Linked DNA regions of Homo sapiens. The protein of the gene in region 2 purifies or fractionates together with the protein of the main gene of each other region. This does not show direct contact. Each region holds a gene or a part of one and is shown on either strand. Other genes may lie near its edges. The genes, in order: OS9, SERPINC1 and SUCLG1.

What was found.
Region 1: the proteins of SERPINC1 (region 2) and OS9 purify together in Homo sapiens (affinity purification with mass spectrometry; 3 studies listed by BioGRID and IntAct, with this or other methods). This does not show direct contact.
Region 3: the proteins of SERPINC1 (region 2) and SUCLG1 purify together in Homo sapiens (affinity purification with mass spectrometry; 3 studies listed by BioGRID and IntAct, with this or other methods). This does not show direct contact.

The regions. Positions count from the first base shown.
Region 1 is NC_000012.12:57,696,988-57,700,737, forward strand, and holds part of OS9 (protein OS-9 isoform 1 precursor), read left to right. Parts: intron 1-3,750. UniProt on the Homo sapiens protein: Lectin component of the HRD1 complex, which functions in endoplasmic reticulum (ER) quality control and ER-associated degradation (ERAD).
Region 2 is NC_000001.11:173,915,480-173,919,229, reverse strand, and holds the start of SERPINC1 (antithrombin-III isoform 1 precursor), read left to right. Parts: upstream 1-1,902; 5' UTR 1,903-1,970; coding exon 1,971-2,011; intron 2,012-2,289; exon of another isoform or gene 2,290-2,725; coding exon of another isoform or gene 2,726-2,823; intron 2,824-3,750. UniProt on the Homo sapiens protein: Most important serine protease inhibitor in plasma that regulates the blood coagulation cascade. AT-III inhibits thrombin, matriptase-3/TMPRSS7, as well as factors IXa, Xa and XIa. Its inhibitory activity is greatly enhanced in the presence of heparin.
Region 3 is NC_000002.12:84,438,680-84,442,429, reverse strand, and holds part of SUCLG1 (succinate--CoA ligase [ADP/GDP-forming] subunit alpha, mitochondrial precursor), read left to right. Parts: intron 1-970; coding exon 971-1,183; intron 1,184-1,325; coding exon 1,326-1,383; intron 1,384-3,750. UniProt on the Homo sapiens protein: Succinyl-CoA synthetase functions in the citric acid cycle (TCA), coupling the hydrolysis of succinyl-CoA to the synthesis of either ATP or GTP and thus represents the only step of substrate-level phosphorylation in the TCA.

The DNA.
Region 1 (3,750 bases), on a different chromosome or scaffold from region 2:
GAGGCAGGCAAATATAGAATGCAAAAAGTTCCTTGGGTGATTCTCATGTATTCACAAATATACACACCTGTAAAGAATTACATGACACCTGCCAGAGTTATCTTTCCATAATGCAGATTTGTACCTGCAGTTGTGTGCTGGTAAGTGTTGGACCCCCAGATCTCTATGGGTGTGGGAGGGAAGCCCTGATCTGTAATGTTTGCCAATGCCTGTGGTATAAATACTCCCATGATGCGCAAGTCAAATGATGTCAACTGTCTTGCAACATTCTCCAAAACTTACCAGTTGGCTCCAACACACCTGTAAGTCTGCATCACTTCTCTGTTCAGTCCTGAAAAACCTTCAATGTTTCTGCCTTGCACAAAGGCTAAGAGCCAAATGTTTCAGCACAGACCAGGGTGGTGGCAGTGGAGGTGATGGGAAGTAGTTGGATTCTGGATATATTTTGAAGGTAGAGCCAATGAGATTTGTTGATGGTTTGGATGTGGGATAGAATCATGGATTACTTCAAGATTTTTGGCTTGAGCAACTGGAATGATGGAATTGTAATTTACTGAAGTGTGAAGGAACAGGTTTAGGGGAGGAAATTAGGTTGGTTTTGGATATTGAAGGTTGAGGTGCCTTTAGACATCCTAGTGGTGATGTCCAGTTGACAGTTGGCTCTGTGGTTCTGGAATTCAGGGACAAGGTCTGGGATAGAGATATAAGTACTCATTGTATTTCTGCCACACTGGCCTTTTTCTGTCCTTCGAACCAGTGGGTCTCATTGTTCCCTCTGCCTGGTGCAGTCTCCTGCAGATCTTTAAATGATTGGCCCCATCCCCTCATTCAGGTTATATTCAAGTGACAACTCCCAGGGAACCTAACATAAGCAAACACACACACACACACACACACACACACGGAACCTAACATAAGCAAACACACACACACACATACACACACACACACACACACACACACACACACACACACACACCCTATTGCTCCTGTCCTGGTAAGCATCCACAGTGTTTTGCATTCTTCAAAGCATGTATCATTACTTGAAATTATTGTATTTGTTTAATTCTGTCTTCCCTCACTAAGATAAGCTCTGGGAAGGCAGGGATGATGTCTATCTTGTTTTCTTATGTATCCACAGCTCCTGGAACAGTGCTTCACTCAAATAGGTACCTAGAAATTATTCATTGAATGAATGAAATGACTGACAAGCCAGTTCTAATATCACCTTTCTTGATTAACCCAGAAAATTAGTTAGTTGTGTTCCTTCACCACTTAATAATACAAGCATCCACACACGTATATAATCCGTTATAGCACTTCATTGTATTCTAGTTATTCGTTTGGGTGTTTGTATCTTCAGTAGGCCAAGAACTGAGGTCAAGACTGCATAGCTTCCTCATATCTGGTGAACATATGCCCTGTGCCAAGCACTAATAGAAACTAGGAACAAAAAGGTGGATGAGACCTAGTCCTGCTCTCAGGAGATATGTTAAATGAACAGCCACAACAAGCAGGATAAATGCCATGAGCAGTGAAGTGCAGCCCGCAGGGGAGCACACAGTCGGGACAGAGTCCAGGGTGAAAAGGAGGCCTCTTGGGAAAAGTGACCTTTGAACTGACATTGGAGGATGAGGAGTTAGACTAGCAGATGGAGAGGATGGTGGGGGGAATGAGAGGGCATTCCAAATGGAAGGTGCGCTAAGTGCAAAAGGCCTGGAGACAAGAGGCAATGGCCTATCCCAGGAACTGACAGATACTCACAGGGACTGAGGGGATAATCATGGGAAGAGGAGTGTAGGAGATGAGTCTGGGTGGTTGGTAGGGGACAGGTCATGAAGGGCTCTGTAGCTATGATGAGGAATTTAGACAATCCAAGAGACAATGGTTAGGGGAGGCAATGAGGTATTTGAAGCAGAATGATGACATATTCAGGTTTGGAATTGAAGGCCCACTCTAGCTGGAGTATAGCAAAGATTGAGAGCTCACTTAGGCAGCTGTGGTAATCCAGGTGTGAAATAAAAGTGGCCTGGGGATGAAGAAATGTGAATATTTAGAGACAGATTTAGGGGGTAAAATCAACAGAGTAAGAAGGAGTCAAGAATGATTTCCAGGCTTTTGGCTTGTGCAGTTAGATAGAGGGTGATTCGTGTTCCTGAGATAGGTATAATGAGAAGAGGAGTAGGTATGGTGAAGGAAAATGGTGAGTTTGGCTTTGAATATGATTTTAGTGGCTGCTAGGCATTCAAGTAGAGATTTCCAAGGGGGCTGTGGATCTCTGGGTCTGGAGTTCAGCAGAGAGATCTGAATTGAACCCAGAGGTGGGGAGTTGTCCTTGTATCAGCCATAACTGAAGCCAAGGTATGGATGAAATCCCCCAAAGAAAACAGTATCTAATGAGAAAAGTGGGATGGAACTTCAAGGAAGCCATCACTAAGAGCATGGGAAGAAGAGGGTTTTGCCAGAAGAAAGGGCCAGAGAGGAGGCTATGGTGACATGGAAACGAGGAAGGACACATTTGAAGGGGAAATTGGTCCATGGTGTTGGCTGTGCCTGAACCTTCAAGGAAGAGGAGGATTAAAAACTGCTTATAGGCAATCATAGTCATTATTATTTTAATAAAGGCAAAACATGTACATGGAAATAAAAAATTCAGACAGTAGAGAAGAGAGCCAGATGGAAAGTATAAATTCTCTACTTCCAGGCACCCCTGACCAGTCCTTTGGTTGGACTTAATGATAGAGATCATTGGTGATCTTTGCTGGGGCAATTTGAGCAGAGTTGTGAAGATGAGGTGTTGAGAAAAGTGGTGAAAAAGTGGAACTCTGCTGGGCGCGGTGGCTCATGCCTATAATCCCAGCACTTTGGGAGGCCAAGGCAGGCAAATCACTTGAGGTCAGGAGTTCAAGAACAGCCTGGCCAATATGGTGAAACCCCATGTCTACTAAAAATACAAAATTAGCCGGGTGTGGTGGTGGGCGCCTGTAATCCCAGCTACTCGGGAGGCTGAGGCAGGAGAATTGCTTGAACCCGGGAGGCGGAGGTCGCAGTGAGCTGATATCGCACCATTGCACTCCAGCCTGGGTGACAGAGTGAGACTGTCTCAAAAAAGAAAAAAAAGAAAAGAAAAAAAGAAAAAGAAACTGGAAATCTTTGAAGAAGTTTGGATATGAAAGGGAGATAAAAGGTAAGCATTAGTGAGAGGTGCTGGGGGGTTGAGAGAGGGGGCATTCTGTGGTTGGTGTGTGTTTTAAGATGGAACAGACTAGAACATGTTGAAGACTTGGGTGAATGTTAGTGGAGAGGAGGAGAGGGAAGTCAAGGTACAGTAGAGAGAATGTGAAAAGAATGTGGACAGGGATGGGATGCAGAACCCTGGGAGAGCAATTTGCCTCAAAAGGAAGGTCTAGGGTCGTAACTGGAATGGTGTATTTGCTAGTGAGTCTGGAGGTTTTGGTGGCAGAAAGTTGAGGCCATTCCTGTCTGGTTGCTTCTAGTTTTCAGTTCTTATGCCACTTGCCTAGGTGATCAGGTAAAGCCCCTACTCCAGGGCAGGCACTGTGATGTGTTGCTGGCCTGATGCCTCCTCAATAGGAACAGCGTGCATGTTGTTTAAAGTGCAGTCTCTGTGGGGCTAGGGAACAACTGGTTAGCTATATGGAATTAAATAAATTCCTATTTATTGGTGTGTGTTTTAAGATGCAACAGACTAGAACATGTTGAAGGCTGTTGGGTGGATGTTAGCGGAAA
Region 2 (3,750 bases):
TATCTGCATCCTAATCTTTTCCAGCGATGTTCACCAAATCACCTATATTTTTGCAGGGCCCCTCATCTGCCCTCCCCCAAGGACCTTCTTGGCAAGACACAAACCTCATAACTCCTATAAGCTGGAACAATAGGTCTCAACAGCATGTTCCTGAAACCTCAAGGTCTTTGTATTTCTGATTTCTCTTTGGACAGCTCTTCCTAAAGATATTCATATGGCCCCCTCCATCATTTCATTCTGGTTTCCTAACAATGATTCCTAAGGGAGGCCTTTCCTACCAAGTGTTCTCAGATGGTGCCCTCCCCACTTCCTCCCACTGCTTCCTATATCCTTGCCCTGCTATAGTTTTCTCTATGGACCTTATTAACATCTGACTGGCACGTTACATATTTATTTTTTAAATACTGATTTTTTTTTTTTGAGATGGAGTCTTGCTCTGTCACCCAGGCTGGAGTGCAATAGCACGATCTCGGCTCACTGCAACCTCTGCCTCCTGGGGTCAAGTGATTCTCCTGCCTCAGCCTCCTGAGTAGCTGGAATTACAGGTGCCCACCACCATGCCCAGCTATTTTTTGTATTTTTAGTAGAGATGGGGTTTCACCAGGTTGGCTAGGCCGGTCTCGAACTCCTGACCTCAGGTGATCCACCTGCCTCAGCCTACCAAAGTGCTGGGATTACAGGTGTGAGCCACCACGCTTGGCCTAAAATACTGATTCTTTATGTGATTGCTGTATGTCTCCCCCGAATGGAATCCCAGCCCCAAGAACAGTGTCTGCTGGCACAAGCAGCACTCGTGTATTTGTTGAACTCAAGTGGTTGAACAGGAGACTTTTCAATAGTCTTTAATCTAGGGTGACAGATGAGCCTCTGGGCATTCTGGGGCCCTTTGGGACAGTTCTCGGCTACTGTTCACACTGCACATGGAGGGCTTCAAAGGATCCAGGGTCTGAATCAGCCAAGAACTTAGACACAGCTTCAGTTCAGGAGAGATGTCCTCTCTCATGAACGAAGAGCTCTCGAAAATGCCTATGACTGCAACAACAACTACAAGGAGTCCTTGATCACACAGCAGGAGGCACATGCGCCCTGTGAACTTGGTGGCTGCAGTCCTTGTGATGGTGCTTTTGGCTATTTCAGAAGAGGGAAATGTAAACAAACCTGCCCTTTATCTCCACTAGTTTGAATTTACCCAATCTCCCCAATAACTAATAAAAATAACGATACACATAAATATAATTTAGTTTGTTTTTATTTCAGCAGTTGTACGTGGGTTTTTCACCTGCCCCGCATTCTGTCTCCTGATCCCCCAGTAGAGTTTTGCTAAGTATTTCCCAGCTGCTCACACCCCTTAGAAACGCGCTTGGCATGCACCCCGAGGCCCTGCTCTTCTCTCCCTGTCCCACCACTTCAGGGCTGCTGGGGAATGGGTCTCTCTGTGGGCCACAGGTGTAACCATTGTGTTTTCCTTGTCTGTGCCAGGGACACCTTGGCACTCAGATGCCTGAAGGTAGCAGCTTGTCCCTCTTTGCCTTCTCTAATTAGATATTTCTCTCTCTCTCTCCCTCTCTCCATAAAGAAAACTATGAGAGAGGGTGGGTATGAACCAAGTTTGTTTCCTTGGTTAGTTTCCTAACCAAGTTTGAGGGTATGAACATACTCTCCTTTTCCTTTTCTATAAAGCTGAGGAGAAGAGTGAGGGAGTGTGGGCAAGAGAGGTGGCTCAGGCTTTCCCTGGGCCTGATTGAACTTTAAAACTTCTCTACTAATTAAACAACACTGGGCTCTACACTTTGCTTAACCCTGGGAACTGGTCATCAGCCTTTGACCTCAGTTCCCCCTCCTGACCAGCTCTCTGCCCCACCCTGTCCTCTGGAACCTCTGCGAGATTTAGAGGAAAGAACCAGTTTTCAGGCGGATTGCCTCAGATCACACTATCTCCACTTGCCCAGCCCTGTGGAAGATTAGCGGCCATGTATTCCAATGTGATAGGAACTGTAACCTCTGGAAAAAGGTAAGAGGGGTGAGCTTTCCCCTTGCCTGCCCCTACTGGGTTTTGTGACCTCCAAAGGACTCACAGGAATGACCTCCAACACCTTTGAGAAGACCAGGCCCTCTCCCTGGTAGTTACAGTCAAAGACCTGTTTGGAAGACGTCATTTCAAGTGCTCTCCCTCCCACCCCACCTCTTGGGGTAAGGCCTTTCCTAAGCTACCCCTTGGGTCCCTAGCCTAAGAAACAAGGGGGATGTCATCCCTGGTGTAAAGATGCTGTGCAGGAAGTCAGCACTCACGGGATCCAGGGGACGCTCCAAGGGGAATCCCCAGGGCCTGCCATCCATCCGGGAAGAGAGCAAATGCTACCCATGAGGACCTCCTCACTCCCTTTTTGCTCTTTCTTCCACTCAGATCCACCCCACTCCACCCCCACCCAAATCCCAGTGACCTTTGACTAAAGGGCCAAAACTGCTTCCTTTTCTCACAATGAGAGTTGTCCCTCCCTCAATGCCACACACACTCCCTTCTTCATCTGAGTTGTCACAGGAGGCTAGAAACGGGGTGGTGGCACAACTGTCTTGGTTTTAATTTGTGCTTCATAGCCCTCCCAGGGTCCTCTCAGCCTCAAATTGCATTTCCAAATGTAGTTGAAGGACAGAGTGGGCAACCGAAGGCAGTGGAGATGGGAAGATGAATGGCAGGGTCCTCTCCTCTCTCTCTCTGCTTCTTCAGCCTGCCTTCCACATCTCCCTTGGTGCCGCTGCTTCTCTCCGGCTTTGCACCTCTGTTCTTGAAAGGGCTGCAGAACTGGACTCAGACCACGCAAGAAGGCAAGTCCCCCTCAGCTGCCCCAGCTTCCAGCCAGCCCCAGGCTTGCCCAACGGACCACGTCCGTGAATCTGCACTGGGTGCCTGTCTTTCTCTCCCAGGAGAAGATGGGAAGATCCAGTACCCACACACAGACCCCCTTGTGTACACGCAGGAACCATAAACCAGCTGGAGGCAGCCCCTGCCCCACCCTGTCTTATCTACAAAAAATATTACAAGAGACTTTATCTCTTGATTTGCTTCATCGAGTGTCCCAACTACCTCATTTTTTTAAAATGTGAAATTAGCTTCATTTACCTTCATTGAATCCATGTTGGCGACTATTAAAAATTCCAGGCAATAAAAAGGGATGAGAGCCTGAACTAAAGCAGTGGCAATAACTGGTGAAAGAGTAAAAAAACAGAACTGATTGACTCTGGGGTGAACTGATTGACTCTGGGGTTTGACTAAATGAGGAGGAGAGAGGGAGGAATCCAGGGTGATTCTCAGGTTTCTGTACGGGATTCACTGAGCCCACTCACAGGAGCAGGCCTGTGGGGGAGAATTAATTACCAGTTCAGTTTGGTCCTGTTTCCCTGAAGAACTTGTAGGAGTTCCTGGTGGAACTGTCCAGCAAATAGTCAGTCTGGAGCTCAGTGGAAGGGTTAGGGCTGGAGCTAGAGATGTAGGAATCTTCAGCACACAGATATTGCCATTGTTTTTGTTTGTTTGTTTGTTTGTTGTTGCTGTTTTGAGACACAGTCTCACTTTGTCACCCAGGTTGGAGTGCAGTGGCACAATCTCAGCTCACTGCAACCTTCGCCTCCTGGGTTCAAGTGATTCTTCTGCCTCAGCCTCCCTAGTAGCTTGGGACTACAGGTGTGCGCCACCACACCCAGCTAATTTTTGTATTTTTAGTAGAGACAGGGTTTCACCATGTTGTCCAGGCT
Region 3 (3,750 bases), on a different chromosome or scaffold from region 2:
AAAATCTAGGAAATAAACTTAGTTCTTTGGGATGATGTGTTGATCAGCCTTAAATGTATTCTTCCTCTCTTCTTTTGCATATTTTTAAGGTATGTTTTAAAGCATTACATTTTTTAAAGCACAAATTTAAAGTCCTTCCTGCCTTAAATTCTATTATGGCTGATTTTATAACCTCAAAATATAGAGAGGAGATGTTTTTTTACAATTCCTCTAGGTTGACTTTTCTTTTGTCATGAGCCTCTTTTTGCTTTTTTTTTTTTTTTAAAGAAAGTTCTTCTTGCTAAGCAATCCATTTATAATTTATAGTGACACAAATAGTTGTGACATTTGGAATATTCTATAAGTTTTTTGACAGATATTGTTTATTTTTCACCCGTTCTGCTCTTACAAAGGGCTTTTTGAATGAGTAGGGTTGGTACCTTTCATCCATATGACGTCCCAGCACAATATTTGCTGTTGTCACAGTATAGCTTCTGGCAGTATTTGTAGACTTTAGAGGTAGAAAACTATGTAATGTAGGTACTTTTCATTAAAGTACCTACATCCCCATGATGTGACTTTTTTTGATTCCATACTAGTTTTAATGTTTTTTGTGTCTCCCCCTCTGTTATCATCTTGAACAGAGTTTTAAAAAATTATTTTTAACCCCCGGCATCATTTGTGGATGATATGTTGGCATTCTTTGACTCTGTTCACTGTCAGGCTGCTTTCAGATTTACTGACATGCCATAGAGAGTGAGATGTCACAGAAGCTTTCAATTCACAGTGGCATTCAAATGGGCTGAGAAAGGGCTATGCTTGATTCTGTTCTACTCTGACAGTGTAGCAAATTTGAGAATGGGAAGAATGCTATGTCTCTGGGTAGTGTCCTTTTCTTACCCCAAGACATTATTAAAATGATGGTATTGAATTTATTTTACAATGTTTATGATTTAACAAATAATAAGGTGCTTCGTCGTTAATGTTTCAGGCCAAAGAACAGACAGGAGCAACGGCTTCTGTCATTTATGTTCCTCCGCCTTTTGCTGCTGCTGCCATTAATGAAGCTATTGAGGCAGAAATTCCCTTGGTTGTGTGTATCACTGAAGGAATTCCCCAGCAGGACATGGTACGAGTCAAGCACAAACTGCTGCGCCAGGAAAAGACAAGGCTAATTGGGCCCAACTGCCCTGGAGTCATCAATGTGAGTGCAAAAAAACAAAAAGAAACTCAGATTAAGCCTCTCACAAGGCTAAACAGCTTTGAGTGAATGCGAGTGTATTTGTGTGTATGACCTGTGAGTGACTTTTTTTTTTAACATTTCTGAAAACTATGATTACTTTCAGCCTGGAGAATGTAAAATTGGCATCATGCCTGGCCATATTCACAAAAAAGGAAGGATTGGTGAGTTTGTTTGTTACATTCTTATAGATTAAAACGTTATTTGCCTTAAACCCTCAAAACTCACAAAGAATTTTTGACTTTGCAAATCAAGTTTAATTAATTTGACTTGAGTAGAATTTACCAGGGAAGTTTTGTAGTCTATCAATTCTGTATCTTGAATATAATGAGTTTATTTGAGAAGCCGTTACAATTCTGCAGAATCAGTGAAGATTTTTTTGGTGGTGGGAGTTTAAAGATTTTTTTCTGCTCAGCACTCTGTGGATTACTCCATGTGTTTGCATATATCAGTAGTTAATTTCATTAACTGTTATAACTTAGTTATTGCTAAGGAGTATTCTGTTGTATAATTATACCACAGTTTGTTTATTCATTCTCCCATTAATGAACATTTGGGTTGTTTTCATGTTTGAGCCTTACAAACAAGGCTTAGGTCAACATTTGTGTACAGGTCTTTTTGTGGAAACATTTTCGTTTCTCTTGGGCAAAATGTGTAGGAATGGAATTGCTAAGTCATGTTCATATGAACATAAGTCAAGTATATTTAACTTTATAAGAAACTGCCAAATAGTTCTGCAAAGTGGCTATATCATTTTATATTTTCACCATTAATGTAGGAGAGTTCCACTTGCTCCATATCTTCACAAAGATTTGGTATTGTTAGTCTTCATTTTTTTGAGACAGAGTTTTGCTCTGTCGCCCAGGCTGGAGTGCAATGGCTCGATCTCGGCTTACCCCCACCTCCGCCTCCCAGGTTCAAGTGATTCTCCTGCCTTAGCCTCCCGAGTAGCTGGGATTACAGGCATGCGCCACCACGCCCAGCTAATTTTGTATTTTTAGTAGAGACGGGTTTCTCCATGTTGGTCAGGCTGGCCTCGAACTCCCGACCTCAGGTGATCTGCTGGCCTCGGCCTCTCAAAGTGCTGGGATTACAGGCGTGAGCTACCATGCCCGGCTATTAGCCTTTTTAAATGTAGCCATTCTACTGAGAGTAAAATGGTATCTCTTGTGGTTTTGAGTGTCCCTGATGACTAATAATGTAGAGCACCTTTTCATGTGCTTATAAGGCCATTCACATACCTGCTCAATAATTACCTTGTTCTTTTAGATATCACAAACTTTCTCAAAATGTTTTAGGTTTGTAGGCACCTTAGAAAGCAGGGCAGTGATCAGAAAGGGAACTCAGATGGCCTGTCAGGAAAATTGCCCTGCTACTTGGTTAGTTCCTTGAGGAAATAGCCAAAGTAACATTTCAAAGTTAGCCACATTAGGCTTGTGTTTAGGCTTTACACCAAAATTTCTCTAAACTATACTGTTTTTCAGTCATGAAAGATGATTGACCATATTTTTCTCTATCTATAAACCATGGCTACTAATAAGGGTAATTAATTGTCACAGTGGGTGTCGGCTGTGCAGTTTACAGAATTGGGTTAAAGATCATGATTTTTCTTTATTACCAATGTCTCTTGGAGCTGTCAGCCCTGCTGCCAGTGGCAGTACTTGATAATTTCATTTACAAGAGAGATTTCAGGGAGCTCCATAGGCCATCTGAGTTCCAGTGGGGCCAGATCCATGTATCACTGATGCTCTTGTACATATTTGAATATTTCTTATATTCTTGGGTCTGTTTTGAAGGCTGTGGTCTTAAGGTGAGCATGGAAGGAATGCTCTGTGCTGAGTTGCCTTTCTGATCACTGCTCTGCTTTCTAAGGTGAGCATAAACCTAAAAAATGAAAATCAAGAGAAGTTCAGGGAAGTCCTTTAGACCTTGCCTTTGTGAATGGTCATAACCCATTGATGAGACAGTCGTCTGGGAGACTGCTTTTAATTCCTTTGAAAAAGGACTTTTTTTTTTTTTTTAAAAAAAAGAAGAAAATATGTGACACTGTGTCCAGAGTTGGTTCCTTCCAGTGGGTTCTTGGTCTCGCTGACTTCAATGAAGCCGCGGACCTTCGCAGTGAGTGTTACAGCTCTTAAAGGTGGCATGGACCTGAAGAGTGAGCAGCAGCAAGATTTATTGTGAAGAGTGAAAGAGCAAACCTTCCATGGCATGGAACAGGACCTGAGTGGGTTGCAGCTGCTGACTGGAGTGGCCAGCTTTTATTCCCTTATTTGTCCCCTGCCCGTGTCCTGCTGATTGGTCCATTTTACAAACCTCTAGCTACAGAGCGCTGATTGGTGGGTTTTTATAGAGCACTGGTTAGTGCATTTTACAAACTTCTAGCTAGCTACAGAGCGCTGATTGGTGCGTTTTACAATCCTAGCTACAGAGTGCTGATTGGTGCATTTTATAATCCTCTTGTAAGACAGAAAATTTCTCCAAGTCCCCACTCAACCCAGGAAGTCCAGCTGGCTTCACTTTCAACACTA